Regions from separate parts of the Homo sapiens genome. Here region 2 is linked to region 1. A link means that fine-mapping ties the variant in region 1 to the expression of a gene that starts in the linked region. Tissue or cell type: whole blood. Region 1 holds a variant in brackets; the other region holds the start of a gene. All regions are shown on one strand. Distances are from middle to middle.

What was found. PIP is the estimated chance that this variant, and not a neighbour inherited with it, causes the effect.
Region 2: it holds the start of NDUFAF6, and the variant in region 1 is fine-mapped to the expression of NDUFAF6 in whole blood (TOPMed, PIP above 0.99).

The regions. Positions count from the first base shown.
Region 1 is chr8:94,971,930-94,980,129 of GRCh38, forward strand. It overlaps a transcript of NDUFAF6 not described here. Among named protein-coding and RNA genes, the nearest start is that of TP53INP1, 27 kb to the left of the region's middle. RefSeq lists an enhancer at 3,343-3,906. The variant C/T (reference allele first, on the strand shown) is at 4,224.
Region 2 is chr8:95,020,168-95,028,329 of GRCh38, forward strand. NDUFAF6 (NADH:ubiquinone oxidoreductase complex assembly factor 6) reads left to right here and starts at 4,822. Exons shown (of 9, transcript NM_152416.4): 1 at 4,822-5,038. The coding sequence starts at 4,842. RefSeq lists enhancers at 3,881-4,727, 4,694-4,988 and a silencer at 4,744-5,113.

The DNA.
Region 1 (8,200 bases):
AAAAAAAAAACTCCGTCTCAAAAAAAATTCTGACTCATCTGCAAATTGAAGAATGATGTAGTTGGTAGCTGGAAATCAACTAGCTGCATTTTAAAATTTTCTGGCAGTGTTACCTCCATCTTGCTTCCTTTACCTATCAAACTGTAGTTATTTAATAAATGCTAAATCAGAAAAACAAAGATTCTGATAGTGTCAGAGAGAAAGCTCTCCTAGAAAGCTACTTTCTGAAAAGTCCAACCAGGTTATTCTTTAACTGTTTTGGTCCATGGAGTAGCAAGGCAGATTTAGAGAGCAAAGAATAGATACAACATGATTTTTTTTTTCTTTCTTGAGACTGAGTCTCGCTCCATTGCAAAGGCTGGATTGCAGTGGCTCGATCTTGGCTCACTGCAACCTCTGCCTCCCGGGTTCAAGCAGTTCTCCTGCTTCAGCCTGCCAAGTAGCTGGGATTACAGGCGTGCGCCACACCAGGCTAATTTTTGTATTTTTAGTAGATATGGGGTTTCGCCATGTTGGTCAGGCTGGTCTCTAACTCCTGAACTCAAGTGATCTGCCCGCCTCAACCTCCCAAAGTGCTGGGATTACAGGCCTGAGCCACCACACCCAGCCACAATGTGATCTTTAAAATAGATCAAAGACCAACCTAAAGGAAAATGAGTTTTTGATCATAAAATTAAGTACAATTTAAAAATTCAGTTCTCCTATAATCTCAGCACTTTGGGAGGACAACGTGGGAGGATTGTGTGAGCTCAGGAGTTTAGGACCAGCCTGGGCAACGTAGCAAGACCCTGTCTCTACTGAAACTTAAAAAAAAAAAAAGATCATCCAGGCATGGTGGTGCATGCCTGTAGTCCCAGCTACTCGGGAGACTGAGGTGGGAGGCTTGCTTAAGCCCAGCAGTCGAGGCTGCAGTGAGCCATGATTGTGCCACTGCATGCAGCCTGGACGACAGAGCAAGACACTGTCTCAAAAATAAATAATAAATAAATATTCAATTCTTAGCCAGGTATGGTGCCTCACATCTGTAATCTCAGCACTTTGGGAGGCCAAGCTGGGAGGATTGCTTGAGCCCAGGAGTTCGAGGCTCCAGTAAGCTATGATAGCTTCACTTCACTACAGCCTGGGTGACAGAACAAGACTCTGTCTCTAACTAGCTAAATTAATAAATACTCATTTCTTAAGAGAAACCCTTAATAATTACCATGTGATTAGGACTGAAATGTCTGAAGGCAAGCTATCTGGGTTCAAATCCTGGCTCTGCCACTCCCTAGCTGTGTGACCTTAAGCAAGCTACTTAATTTCACTGTGTCTCAGTATTTTTTCCTTATCTGTAAAATGGAGATGATAGGACCTCCAGCCTGGGTGACAGAGTGAGATTCTGTCTCAAAAAATAAAATAAAATAAAATGAAAGAGACACCAGAGAGCTCCCTCATGCCTTCTCCCCCATGAGGACATAGTGAGAAGATGCCCAACTATGAATCAGAAAGTGACCTTTGGGCTGGGTGCGGTGGCTCACGCCTGTAATCCCAGCACTTTGGGAGGCTAAGGCGGGCAGATCACGAGGTCAGGAGATCGAGACCATCCTAGCTAACACAGTGAAACCCTGTCTCTACTAAACATACAAAAAATTAGCCAGGTGTGGTGGCGGGCACCTTTAGTCCCAGCTACTCGGGAGGCTGAGGCAGGAGAATTGCTTGAACCTGGGAGGTGGAGGTTGCAGTGAGCTAAGATCGCACCACTGCACTCCAGCCTGGGCGACAAGAGTGAGACTCTGTCTCAAAAAAAAAAAAAAAAGAAAGTGACCTTTGGCCAGACGTGGTGGCTCACACCTGCAAACCCAGTGCTTTGGGAGGCCGAGGTGGAAGGATTACTTGAGGCCCAGAGTTCAGGACCAGCCTGGGCAACACAGCAAGACCCCTGTCTCTAAAAAAAAAAAAAAAAAGGCCCTCCCCAGACATGGAATCTTTGATCTTGGACTTCCCACCCTCCAGAACTGTGAGAAATAAGTTTCTGCTGTTTATAAACCACTCAGTCTATGGTATTTTCATTATAGCAGCCTGAACCAACTAAGATAAGGGTGTTCATGAAAGTGAGGAAAACAAATAATGTCTTTATGGGAACTCCAGAAAGCCACTCAGCCAGTCCTCAAGGTTAGAGCAGGAACATCATACCACCCTGCACTGTGGCCATTAGTCAGGAACTGGAAGGTCATTCAGGGCACTGACCAGCTCTTGTGGCCATACCATCTCCTCATCCCTTTGCAGCAGGTGTCTACTTAGAGCCAAATCTGTTTTTTTTTTAAATTATCTTTATTATAAGGAAAAAAAAAAACCACAGTAAAACAGACCTGGTAGGTGGTAGGGGTGGAAGACACGGAAAAATATAATGACCAGACATGGCTTCCTGCGAGGGAGGACAGTGAGTTGGCCTTTACCTCACCTACTTTCCTGATTCAAAGAAACTTGCCCCCAGCAAGACTGGGCCCAGGAGCTCCATTTTCCAATCTCTTCTCTTCCTGGGCATTTAAGAAGGGGTATATTGTTCTCCAGCTTTCAAGATATTGCAGACAGTATGGAGAAGAAGGGAAGGATATTATAGCCGTTTGTTTCAATGCCTTCCCCAGCTCAAGCCCTCAGGATTTGTTGATGCTGCAGATAGGAACCCCATGGAATTGGGGCAGCTTAAGCAGCAATATGCTGAGCGGTGAGGCTGTGTTGATGAAGAAGGAAGCAGCATCATACCTGGCATGGAAGCTGTCAGGAGGTAGAATGCCATAGGAGAGATGCTAAGGAACTTGTGGGCAGAGGTACCTGGAGCCTGTAGTCCATCCGCTCCCAGTGTATCAGTAGCCAAGCCTTTCCTTGTTAAGGGGGTCTCAAAGGACGTCCCTTTCCCCGTATGCAGGAAGTACATAGCCTGCCAGCTTCAGAAGCCTGTCCAGCTAGAGGCGTGGTGCTCACTTCCACACCTGTAGATGTTTGTCCAAGGGTCAACCTGAGATTCAAACCCAGGGCCTTCTGGCCCAAAACAAGTAAGCAAGTAGCAGCCCAGGAAGTCAAACCAAGATCTGCGAGGTTCCAAAACACCAGCTCCTTGCTTCTTCCTTTCTCAGCCCACCAACATAACCACTTGGAGGAGCCTGAACCAAGTCATGTGTTTGCCAGTTCCCACTGTCTCATTCCAATGCTGAGTTGCCCCTGGGATAGAGCAAGTCTTCCTCCACCCCCTGTAACTGTTAGGGCCAGGTAGAGACAGAGGGCAGGTGTGGGTGGGTTGGAGGATCCCCTTTCATTCACATTCAGCAGGTGGCTTCCTTGAGCTGATTTTTCCCTTTAAAGCTGTCCTAATTGCTATTTTAATCAGATTTTATATTCCTATAAATCTAAGGTGGAGGTTGGGGAGAAAAGAGATAATGGTATGGTGAGATGTCTACTGAACTGCTCCTGCCAAGGCCCCTCCCCATGTACTCTCAACGAAAGTTGCAGGTGAGTCTCCCATGCTGGGAGTCGGAATCCAGCAGAGCCTCAGGCAGCGGGGAGCTATAGCAGTTAGAAAGAGCACATTCGCAGAAACCCTGTGACCTGCAGCTGCTGGCCTCCTGGAAGCTTCCTTTGTTGCTCTTGGTTGGAAGACTGTTGTTATGATGCTCTTTTAACTACATTCACAGGGTCTAGGATTGGGTTAGAGAAAGGGTGAGAGGACAGGTGGGAGGAAAGAGGCTGAATGAGTGCTAGGAAGTGAGGCATCCGAAGGGACTGCCTTCATGGTCGTGTCTAGCCTGATATTCACAGCATTATTGATTTTTTTTCTTCCAAAAATTACATGTATTTTATTTTCAGCATCTTTTGCTAATTCTTTCTAATTATAATGTGCTGTTATTTTACAGCCACCCATTCTCATTTTGTGGATATAATTCCCTGCTTTAGTTTTCTGAGCACAAGAAATCAACTTTGGCTGCACATTGGAATATCTGAGAAGCTTAAAAATACTGATGTTTGGACCAGGTGCAGTGGCTCACGCCTGTAATCCCAGCACTTTGGGAGGCAGAGGCAGGTGGATCACGAGGTCAGGAGATCGAGACCACGGTGAAACCCTGTCTCCACTAAAAATACAAAAAATTAGCCGGGCGTGGTGGCGGGCGCCTGTAGTCCCAGCTACTCAGAGAGGCTGAGGCAGGAGAAAGGCATGAACCCGGGAGGTGGAGCTTGCAGTGAGCCGAGAT[C/T]GTGCCACTGCACTCCAGCCTGGGTGACAGAGACTGTGTCTCAAAAAAAAAAAAAAAATACTGATGTTTGGGCCGGGTGGTGGTGGCTCACGCCTGTAATCCCGGCACTTTGGGAGGCAGAGGCAGGCGGATCACGAGGTCAGGAGGTTGAGACCATCCTAGCCAACGTGGTGAAACCCCGTCTCTACTAAAAATACAAAAATTAGCTGGGTGTGGTGGCGCATCCCTGTAATCCCAGCTACTTGGGTGGCTGAGTTACGAGAATCACTTGAACCAGGAGGTGGAGGTTGCAGTGAGCCAAGATCCCGCCACTGCACTCCAGCCTGGTGACAGAGCAACACTCCATCTCAAAAAAAAAAAAAAAAAAAAAAATTAGCTGGGTGCGGTGGTAGGTGCCTGTGGTCCCAGCTACTTGGGAGGCTGAGACAGGAGAACTGCTTGAACCTGGGAGGTGGAGGTTGCAGTGAGCCAAGATCACACCACTGCACTCCAACTTGGGCAACAGAGCAAGACTTCATCTAAAAAAAAAAAAATACTGATGTTTGGAGAATGATGGTCATCAGAGGTTGGGGAGAAGGAAAAGGGAAGTTGTTGTTTATGTTGTTTAATGGGTATAGAGTTTCAGATTTGCAAGGTGAAGAAGTTCTGGAGATCTGTTTCACAACAATGCGAATGTACTTAATATTACTGAACCATACAATTAAAAATGGTTCAGAGGCCAGGTACAGTGGCTCAGGCCTGTAATCTCAGCACTTTGGGAAGCCCAGTCAGGCGGATCGCTTGAGTCCAAGAGTTTGAGATCAGCCTAGGAAACATGGCGAAACTCCATCTCTACAAAAAATACAAAAATTAGCCAAGCGTGGTGGCACACACCTGTGGTCCCACCTAGGTGAGAGGATCACCTAAACTCAGGGAGGTCAAGGCTGCAGTGAGCCATGATTGCACCACTGCACTCTAGCCTGGGTGACAGAGTGAGACCCTGACTCAGAAAAAAAAAAAAAAAAAAAAAGGTTAAGATGGTAAATTTTATGTTATGCTTTTCTACTACAATAAAAAGTACATAAAAATATTGATATGGGCCGGGTGCAGTGGCTCATGCCTGTAATCCCAGTGCTTTGGGAGGCCAAGGTGGAAGGATCACTTGAGGCCAGAAGTACAAGACCAGCCTGGACAACAAAAAGAGAGCCTATCCTTACAAAAAATTTTTTTTAATTAGCTGGGTGTGGTGGCACACAACTGTAGCCCTAGTACTCATAGTACTCAGGTGACCTGAGGTGGGAGGATCACTTGAGCCTGGGACATTGAGGCTGCTGTGAGCCATGATCACACCTCTGCACTCCAGCCTGAGCAAAGAGCAAGACCCTGTCTCTAAAAAAAAAAAAAAAAAAAAATTGACCTGGCTAGAACGAAGCAGGCATAAGAAGGGGCATAAGCACCCTGCTGGGTTCTCTCTCTCTCTCTCTCTCTCCTTGTGCCAGATGTTTTGCTTCCGCTTCTCCTGTCCTTGGACATCAGACTCCAGATTCTTCAGCTCTTGGACTCTGGAACTTACATTAGTGGCCTTCTGTGGGGGTCTCAGGCCTTTGGCTTCAGACTGAGGGCTGCACTGTTGGCTTCCTGCTTTTGAAGCTTTTGAACTTGAAATTCTGACTTAACTGATGAACAGTTAAGTCTAGGGAATATCTGTTCTGGGGAGTAGTGGGCAATGAACCCTGAAAAGCTCTGTGACATTATGATATAATAAAACATATCAGTGGTTTTCCTCCCCAGTCCCTGGCACAGAGCTCCTAAAACCCTTGTAATTTCCTGAATGACAGGGGTGCTAGGTACATCGTTTGTTCTAATACTTGGTCTTGGACTCTGGTTCCTGACAAAGAGCTCCTAAATCCTTTGGAATTTCCCGGGTACTAGAAGAGTCCTTTGTTCTATTAATAATTCGGCAACTCTTGGGGGGCTCCTGGATAGCTTTGGGATGGGAACTGGTCAGCAGAAAGACCAAGCCATGATTAGAAGCTTGGAACATTCAGTCCCATCCCCTATTCTCCAGGAAGGGGAGCAGAGCTGGAGATTGAGTTAATAACCCATCATGCCGATGTGATGAAGCCTCCATAAGACTACAAGGCTCATAGAGCTTCTAGGTTGGTGAACACATCTGCGTGTTAGAAGGATGGCGCACTCCAATTCTTGCCCTCAGGACACTTTTGGACTCACTCTATGTACCTCTTCATCTGGCTGTTCATCTGTATTCTCTATCATATCCTTTATAATAAGCTGGTAAACAGGCCAAGCATGGTGGCTCATGCCTGTAATCCCAACATTTTGGGAGGCCAAGGTGGGAGGATCACTTGAGCCCAGGAGTTTGAGACTAGCTCTGGCAACACAGTGAGACCCCATCTCCATGAAAAATAAAAACTTAGCCAGGCTTGGAGGTGCACGCCTATAGTCCAGGTACTTGGGAGGCTGAGGTGGGAGGATCGCTTGAGCCTGGGAGGTCGAGGCTGCAGTGAACCATAGCCATTCCACTTTGCTGTAACCTGGGAGACAAAGCAAGACCCTGTCTCAAAAAAAGAAAAAAAAAAAGCTGGCAAACATAGGTAAACATAAGTGTTTCCCTGAGTTCTGTGAGCCATCATAGCAAATGGGAACCTCCAATTTGTAGCCAAGTTAGAAAGAAGTGTGGGTAACCTAGGGACTCACTACCTGCAGTTGGCATCTGAAGTTTGGGGGCAGTTTTGTGGGACTGAGCCCTTAACCTGTGGCATCTACAGTAACTCCAGGTAGTTAGTGTCATAATTAAATTGTGGTACACCTAGTTGGTGTCCAAAGAGTTGGAGGATTGTTTGGGGTGTTTGGGGTAGAATAAGCCCTGAGACATTTTGTGTCAGAAGGGTTGAGTGTAGTAGAGCAAAACAGTGTTTGTTTCCTGTTTAAGCTCCCAGGTGATTTTAGCATGCGGCTAAAACTGAGAGCCGTCCTGAGGATCTGAAGTCACTACTTTTCAGATCCTCATCATTCTGGTAATTATTTTTTCTCAGATGCAAATCCCCGCTTTTGTTGAGATTTTCTTTTTGATGGTGTGGGCCATTTTCAGAGGCTGACCAAGCTTACCTTCTGCCACCTGGGCTACACCTCTGCCTACACCCTGGGCTTCAAGTCCCACCTGGAGGTGAGGACCTGGGGCTTCTTGACTTGTGCTTTCCTATCTCCTCACTTCCTTGAGGAATGCTGCCCAGCCTTTAAAGAGAGGGTCCTTCCTTGTTTTCAAAAGTGGCTATATTGTCTTTCACACCCCTCTCTCTTTTCCATCCTTCCTTCTCTCTTTCTTTTTGTATCTTTTAAAAAATCTCTTCCTGGGGTCTTATGAAGGAGATTTCAGCATGAGTTTAGTCCACATTCCTGAAATCTGGGGATTTTACTTTTTAACTTTATATATTTCTGTGTTATTTGAATTATTTTGCCACAAATACATTGTTTTTGTAATATTTTTTCAAGTGTTTTTATAAAAAGAATTTATATTAATAAAGCCTATGTAATAACCTTGAAAATGTTTATGACATAATGCTAAGGGAAAAGGCAGACATATGTGCAGGAGGATCACAACAATGTAAAAAAAGACCATGACAAAAAACGAACTTTATCCATAGAAGACAGGCCGGAATGGGCTGGGCACCATGGCTTACGCCTGTAATCCCAGCACTTTGGGAGGCCGAGGCAGGTGGATCACTTGAGGCCAGTAGTTCAAGACCAGCTTGGCCAACATGGCAAAAACCTCATCTCTACTGAAAATAAAAAAAATCAGCTTGGTGTGGTGGCGCGCACCTGTAATCCCAGCTACTCGGGAGGCTGAAGTAGGAGAATCACTTGAACTAGGAAGGCGGAGGTTACAGTGAGCCGAGATCATGCCACTGCACTGCAGCCTGGTTTACAGAGTGAGACTCTGTCTCAAAGCGAAAAAAAAAACAACAAAAAAAACCAGA
Region 2 (8,162 bases), 48 kb after region 1:
CAGCCTGGGCGACAAGAGTGAAACTTTGTCTCAAAAAAACAAAGGTAATTGAGGATAAGTAAACTACCCAAAAAGCATGATGCATTCAAGTTCCTCTTTTTCATAGCTGCTGATAATAGGTTCCTTAAAATCAGATAACTGTAAGGCTTGACTATTAAACGAATAGTGGAAACCCTTCACAAGGGGAAATATTCCTTTCAACTTTGTATTTTCTTCATATTCTGCCCTTCTTAAACTTGCTGAGTCTGATTTGCTCTTTCAGTCACTAAGACTGCAAGCCTGTATGGTGCCTTGTTATAAATGAGAAGGTCCCCATCTGGGCTGAGGCAGCCCTGCAGGCACATGCCTCTCTGTGTGAAGAGAAAGGCTACCCTTCCTCTGAGCAGAGACAATGCCACACCAGCCCACACCAGCCCCTCTTGCTCCCTTAGCCAGGCATGTTTGTGCAGTGCACACACTGCATAACCTGGTGTCTTATTTCCGGTGCCAAAAAACTTGGCCTTCAGAACGATACACTAACACCTCCCAATGCCAGGCACTTGGCCAGGCACTGGAGATAAAAAGAGGAGTAAGAAAACATCTACCTTTGGCAGTCTGGGAAGAGGGCCATATAAGCAGATCACCACAGTAAGACCTGGCAAAGTGATCAAACATGAACACAAATTGTTATAGGATCAAAACTGGGGGAACAACTCTTTTTTTCTTGGATGGGGTTATGGTCAAGGAAAATTCAGGAAGGAAGAGGTGTTTAATTAGGTGTTTGGGGGATGAGTAGAGGTTCATGAAAGGGAAAAAGGGCATTAGAACTTTTGTGGTGACAAGGACAAACTTAGAGCTCTCCTCCTATAACCCCAAATCTCAGGAAAGCCTTGGGTTGCGGCTTACTTTGATTTAGGTCTTGAATCACACCATTTTTGTTGGGTTTGTCTTTCTACATGTCTTTTTGCCTTTGAAGTGATCCAGACAAGCTTAGCAGTGGGGTTTGTAAAAACAGTGTAATAAACATTGCCCATTTGCCAGGACTGTCCTCTGTGTAGCTCTCTTGGGAGTCTGTAGAGGCCGTAGGTGGCTGGTTAAAGGCTGGGGATTTGGGATTATCACCAAATGGCCTCCTTGAAGATACAGCACACAAGGACAATCCAGAAAGAGGGAACAGCATAATCCCACAATATTTTGTTTGCCAAATGGAAATCTCTTTAGTGACAAACATTTAACTTAGCACCAGGTGTGACCTTCAGTTATGCAATAGAATTGTGGATCAGCTAGGATGAAATTTCTTATTTCCCTAGAAGAATGTTTTGTCCAGAAACACTATCCCAAGGCAACAGACTATATTTCCAACTCTGTGAGCCTTTTCCCTTCTTGGCACGTGCTACTGGTTGCTAGACGAATCAGGAGGCAGTATGTGCATAGAACAGCTCCTCACAAGTCACTGTCATTCTAAGAAAAAAACTCAGTATGTGTCCTTTTGGCAGGAAGTCAGAAACATGTTCTCTGGACCATTAAGGGACAGCATCTTTTGTTATAAATGTGTTATATTTGTTCTTTGACCTTTATCTATATCCTTTATAATAAACCAGTAAATATATATAAGTGTTTCCCTGATATCTGGGAGCCATCATAGCAAATTATCAAACCTGAGGAGGAAGGTCCTGAAAATCCTTGATTTGTAGCCAAGTCAAACAAAAGCATGGGTAACCTAAGGACTCACTAATTGCTACTGGTGTCCAAAGTAGGGGGCAGCCTTGTGAGACTGAACTCTGAACCTGTGGATTCTGTCCTAACTGTGTAGTCCTGAAAATGCTTGGTGTGGAAGATCTATACATGTAGTGTCAGAAGGGTTGCATAAGTATAGAAAAATTGTTTTTCCTTTTTAGTAGTGGTTCATCTAAAAAGTATTTAATTGTGGAAAATATAAGGATTGAATAAGGGCATAGTTAATGTGTTATATCTGTTGATAAGATGAACTATAATGCTGTAATTAAAAATGTTTATGAAGGTTCAATATAATAAAAATACCAGTTTTCCATACATTAGGTATAAATTTAACATAGCTGTAATGAAAATACCTTCAGAATTATTTTAATCGAATGGCTGATCCTAAAAGCCAAATGGGAAAATAAACAAGAATGGCCAGGAAGACCGGGGAAGAGAAAAAGAGTAATGAAGAAGGACTAGCCCTACTAGATATCTATGAAAACATATTTTAAAGACGCAATAGTTAAAAGAGTTTACTACTAGAACATTAATAGACAAATGGAACACTATAGACACAAAGTATATGCATGAGTTTATTCTGTGAAAAAGGAAGCATCTCAAATCAAAGGAGGAAAAGGTGGACTACTGAATAAATGATAGTAAGACAACTACTAGATATAAAGAAAAAAGTTAGATTCATACCTTCCTAATCTTTACCCCTCCAAAAAAAAAAAAAAGAAATGTAAAAAAGTGAAATCTACAAGTAGTACGAGAGAAACCAGAAGGACTAGAAGAAAGCAAGGGATTCTTTTAACACATTTAAAATGGGGAAGGCCTTTTTAAAGACTGCAAAATCCAGAAGCCATAAAAGTAAATATTGTAAATTTGACTAGATAAAAATATATTGCAAAATTTCTGCATGGCAAAGATTCCACAAGCAAAGACAAAACTAAAACCTAACTGAGGAAAATAATAATGATCTATATTACAGACAAAGGACTAATCCCCCTCACGTGTCATGGCAGCTAGCTTCCCACAGAGTAAGTGATGAGAGAGAGAGAGAGAGCACCCAAGATGAAATATGGAAGGTGCAGACCTTTTATAACCTAATCGCAGGAGTGACATTGGGTTTTTCTTTCGAATTTTTCTGATTTGTTTCCCTGTGGTGTCGATTTATCTTGTTTCTTGTCTTTTTCTTATAAACTTTAAAATTAGATTTAGAAGCTTAATTAACTTTATGTTAAGCCTTTTTGCCAAGAATATTTCATATGTAGTATATTGAATTTTATGTTTCCTTTTATTAGTGAAGCAACTTTCCCAGAAGCACCACAGTGGACTTGTTCTCAAGTCTAATTGGCCAGATCAGGGAAATATGCACTGTCCTGGACCAGTCACTGGTGATGAAAGGGTAACACCCACCACCGGGGTTCTGCTACTACACAGGATGAAGAAAGGTAATTTCAGAGAGTAAAAACCAAAGTTGCATGAATTGGTTAGAGTTCTTAGGGCCAGAGGACAAGGTGCTTTACCTTGGGTTTAAACAAAAACATTAACTTGGAGTCACAAAGGCAAGTGGCCAGAGTTGAGGCAGAAAGGTAAATTGAGGCCACATCATGGACGGACTGCATATAACACACAGTAAATGCTGTCAAGTAGGGAAACGCCATGATCAGATGGACATTTTAGAAAGAACCAGTCTGGCCATAGCAAGAAAAGTCTAGGCAAATCTGGAGGCAAGAGGGATTCAAGTGTAGGCAGCTGCTGGCTGGGATCAGCTAGTTGGTAGCAGCTAGACCCACCTCTAATATTTGAGGGCCCTGAAAGTAAGAGTACCAAAGGAAGCCAACATACCATGTGAACAAATATTCAAAGTTAATCCCAGCACTATGGGAGACTGAGGTGGGCGGATCATGAGGTCAGATCGAGACCATCCTGGCCAACATGGTGAAACCTCATCTCTACTAAAAAGACAAAAATTAGCTGGACGTGGTGGCGTGCACCTGTAGTCCCAGCTACTCGGGAGGCTGAGGCGGGAGAATCGCTTGAACCCGGGAGGCGGAGGTTGCAGTGAGCCAAGATCAAGCCACAGCACTCCAGCCTGGCAACAGAGTGAGACTCTGTCTCAAAAAAAAAAAAAAAAGTTATAAATCAAGTTAGTAAACTGTTAAAAGCTCTGTCTTCCTGCCTTGATAAATACATCTTCCTAAGGACCTGAAAGGTCAGGTTTACATTGAAAATTTTGACTCCTTGGAGTTCCATGCTGGACCTTGGAGGCCCAGACAAGCAGGCTCTGGCCTATGGCCGTCTTCACTTCCTTTCCCTGTCCAAATAAGATTGTGGAATAACACAGATATTTTGAATGTTTGGATCTTACCCGACTACTTACTATTTATGTGAACTGAGGCACTTCAGCTTCTACAATTTTCAAGTGACAGCCATTGGGGTAAAGCAGGAAACAAAATAATGGCACTGCCCGTATGGAACCCAGAGGATACTGGGAGAAAAAAGTCAGCAAGCAGGTTAGCTATAGGTAGTGGTTGATAATGGCCTACTGTGTGGCTTCTCTGAGAGATGTGTGTGCTTTTCTGCTGGAGGTGTTAGGTGGCCAGTGGTTCCCAAACAGGGCGACATTTCCAGAGGCCTTTGGTGGTGTGTGGGCGTTTGGTGGTCACCAAGACTGGGCATTCACCTATTGCAAACTTCCAGCAACGTGCGGGACAGCGCTATTGCGCCCAAAGTGCCAAGGCAGCCCCTGTTGAGAAACAGTGCAAGGTGTTCTGTTCTCATGGTGGATTTGGGGTATAGGGGCGGCGGGGCGTGATTTTGGCAGCTACTTCCTTCACCAGCAGCACCCATCACTTCTTGTAGGTGCTCTGAGGTCGCCTGTGGATGCACGTGGGGGAAGGGGAAGAGCCCAGGAGGGGTCGGACGGACTTGGGCGGGTCTTTCCTGGAACGAAGGCCAAAGAGTCGCGGCGGCGGCCCAGATGCAGAGGACCACAGCGACACCTGGCTCTTCTTTGAGCGGCGTCCAGAGGCTGCCTTCCCGCGACTCAAAGGAGCATAGGGGAACCTGCAGGGGCGTGGCCGGGGCGTAGCTGCGCGCCGACGGCGGGGGGTCGAAGGGCACGCAGTGCCGGCGTCATGGCGGCCTCCGCGCACGGCTCTGTCTGGGGGCCGTTGCGGCTTGGCATCCCCGGCCTGTGCTGCCGCCGGCCGCCTCTGGGTCTGTACGCGCGCATGCGGCGGCTGCCCGGGCCGGAGGTGTCTGGGCGGAGCGTGGCTGCGGCCAGCGGACCGGGCGCCTGGGGCACTGACCACTACTGCCTGGAGCTGCTGCGGTGAGCGAGCACGACCTTCCCTGGCGCGGCGGGAAGCGGGGTCCCGGGGTGGGAGCGGCTGCGCCTCGCGTCTGGCCTGACGTTTGAGCGAGCGGACCGGCGCCTTCCTCGTGCCCCTCTGGGTGTGCGTTCTAGTGGGCGTCGGGTGCGGGTGTGCGGAGGCAGCGGGCCCACAGGAACATTCACATGGGTCACAAAATTATGGCAAAATTCCTTCGACTGCCCACGCTTGTCGCCTTATCTGAACCTTAATTTTAGCCGAATTCAGCGTTTTTGCATGAATAACCTTTGTTATTCACAGAACGTCTATTAGTTTTAACCACAACGGTAGCCAACTTTGAGTTCTTTCTGTGTGCCTGGCATTATGCAAAGCAGATTACGAGTAATTAGTCTTCATTACAAGTTGCGACGGACAAATGTAGACCTATCATTTAAGGTTGTGAGTTATAAAGCATTTAGAACAATTCCTGGCATATAGTAAGGGCACAGTGAGTGGAAGTCATTATTATCTCATTTAACAGACAAGGAAACTGGGTTTTATAGTGATTAGAGAATTTGCCACAGGTTCACAAGAATAGCCTCATAAAGTCAGAGCCCTGAAGTGTTTTGTTTGTCGGGCGTAGTGCTGGGAAGGCCTGGCACTTGGGTGTCGCTCCTTAATCATTTGTGGAGGTGGGTTGGATCAATCAGGTCACCTGGTTCATGCGGCAGGGACCCCTGGGAATCCAGGCCTGACTGCTGAGACCAGTGGCTTAGCCCCTCTGCCCTTCTGCTATGTCTCATTTGAAAGACTGGGGTAAGGTCTTGAAGTACTTGGTCTCAAGGACTTACCAAAAGTACTTGAATGACTAAACTACCTTGAAGTTGATCATGCAAGTAAAACCGTTTTTTTTTTAATTCCATTTTAGAGAAAAGCAGCATAACACAACAAAATGCATGCATTTCAGTGTTTTGTTTATAATCCCTTTTAAAAATTGTGGGCCGGCCGCGGTGGCTACACGCCTGTAATCTCCGCACTTTAGGAGGCTGAGACCGGTGGGTTGTTTGAGCCCAGGTGTCTGAGACCAGTCTGGCCAACATGGCGAAACCCCATCCCTACAAAAAAATAAAAAATTAGTTGGGCGTTGTGTCCCGCGCTTGTGGTCCCGGCTGCTCCAGAGGCTGACGTGGGAGGATCGCTTCAGCCTGGGAGGTGGAGGTTGCAGTGAACCAAGATCGCTCCACTGCACTCTAGCCTGGGCGACAGTCTCAAAAACAACAAAAACAAAAATTATTTATTTCCTACCTTATTTGTTGATTACTTGTAAGAGAAACAAGATAGCAGTAATGGAAATCAGGCATTAAGAATTGTAAAAGCCAAAAAAAATTGTAAAAGCCAAAATTGTGAAAAGATTGCATTATTTTTATATATTTAAGTTGTTATATTTTGATGATAAAAACTTTAAGTTGCCAGAGTATACCACCCAATAGCCGCTAGTGTCATAACTTTGCAGAGATAATCACTTTTAAAAATTTCTTATCTATTTTTCCAGGGATAGTCTGTGGATTTACAAATATTTAAGGCTGGAGGAATGGCTTACACCTGTAATCTCAGCATTTTGGGAAGCCTAGGCAGAAGGGTTGCTTGATGCCAGGAGTTTGAGACCAGCCTGGGCAACATAGCGGGATGCTGTTGCTACAAAAAATAAAAAAATTAGCTGGGCTTGGTGGCACAGCCTGTGGTCCCAGCTACTGCGAGGCTGAGGCGGGAGGATCACTTCACTCCAGGAGGCTGAGGCTGCTATGAGCCGAGTTTGCTCCATTGCACTCCAGCTGGGGCAACAGAGCAAGACCCTGTTTCAAAACAAACAAACAAAAATATTTAAGTACATTATTAGTTATTTTTTACTTCAGTCACATGCTAGTTTTTCTCAAGTATATATACTGTATTTACAAATGGTCAGTTACTTAAACTGTCCATGTTATTTGTGTGGAATGGGGGCTCTTGACTCTAGTGACTTATTTCAAATGCTGAATTTTGCAGGCAGACCTGATTTGAGAGTATTAATCCCAGCTCTATCACTTGGGAAGGTTTCTTTAAGATTCCATGTTGGCTGGGCACCATGGCTCACACCTGTAACCTTAGCACTTTGGGAGGCTGAGGAGGGAGGATTGCTTGAGCCTAAGAGTTCCAGACCAGCCTGGGCAACATAGTGGGACCCCTTCTCTACAAAAAATAAATAAAATTAGCTGGGCATGGTGGTAAGCACCTGTAGTCCCAGCTACTCTGGAGGCTGAGAGAGGAGGATCACTTGAACATGGGAGGTTGAGGCTGCAGTGAGCCAAGATCTTGCCACTGCACTCCAGCCTGGGTGACAAAATGAGACCCTGTCTCAAAAAAAAAAAAAAAAAAAGATTCGGTTTTTTCCTCATTTGTAAATGTTTACTCTTACCTTATAGCCTGGTGTTGTGAGGATTAAATGTGATGATATAGTAAAAAATGCTTAGCAGAGTTCAGACACATGACAAATATAAGTTTAAAAAATAAAAATAAACTTGAAATAGAATTTCTGGCTTCTAATTGTCCATCAATAATCTCTGCAAGATTTGGCCTCTGAAATTATGCAGGGTTGTTTTGGACGTGCATTTTATGCAAGGCCTCTAAATAGCAGGAAAAATAGCAGGCCATAACTTCGGGTTCACCATCCTCGGCTCTCCTAGCAATTTAGGTTTTTGGGAAAATCTCAAACCTAATTTACATAGGCTTCTCCGACTTTGGCTTTGAGGAGGATAAACACAGAGCCTCAGGCTGTAGTGAGAAGGTGAGGAGGTACTACTGGTGGTGTTGGAGTGCACTAATGTTCTTTACTTTGCTGCAATCTCACCAGGGAATCACTTCCTTTGTGCCTCAGTGGCACAGGTCCATGGTACTAACACACAACAATCCTAATACCCCGTGTGCTTGTTTCTTATATGTCTGTCTCTCTCAACTCAATCGAAGTCAGTACCCATCTTCAGTGTCTGGAACAGTGCCTGGCACATAGTAGGCACTGCATAGATGTTAGAATGAATGAGAGGTTATTTGCCCTATTGCCATATAAAGCTGTTATATATACATCCGTAATATGGCATTTCTCATTATCTG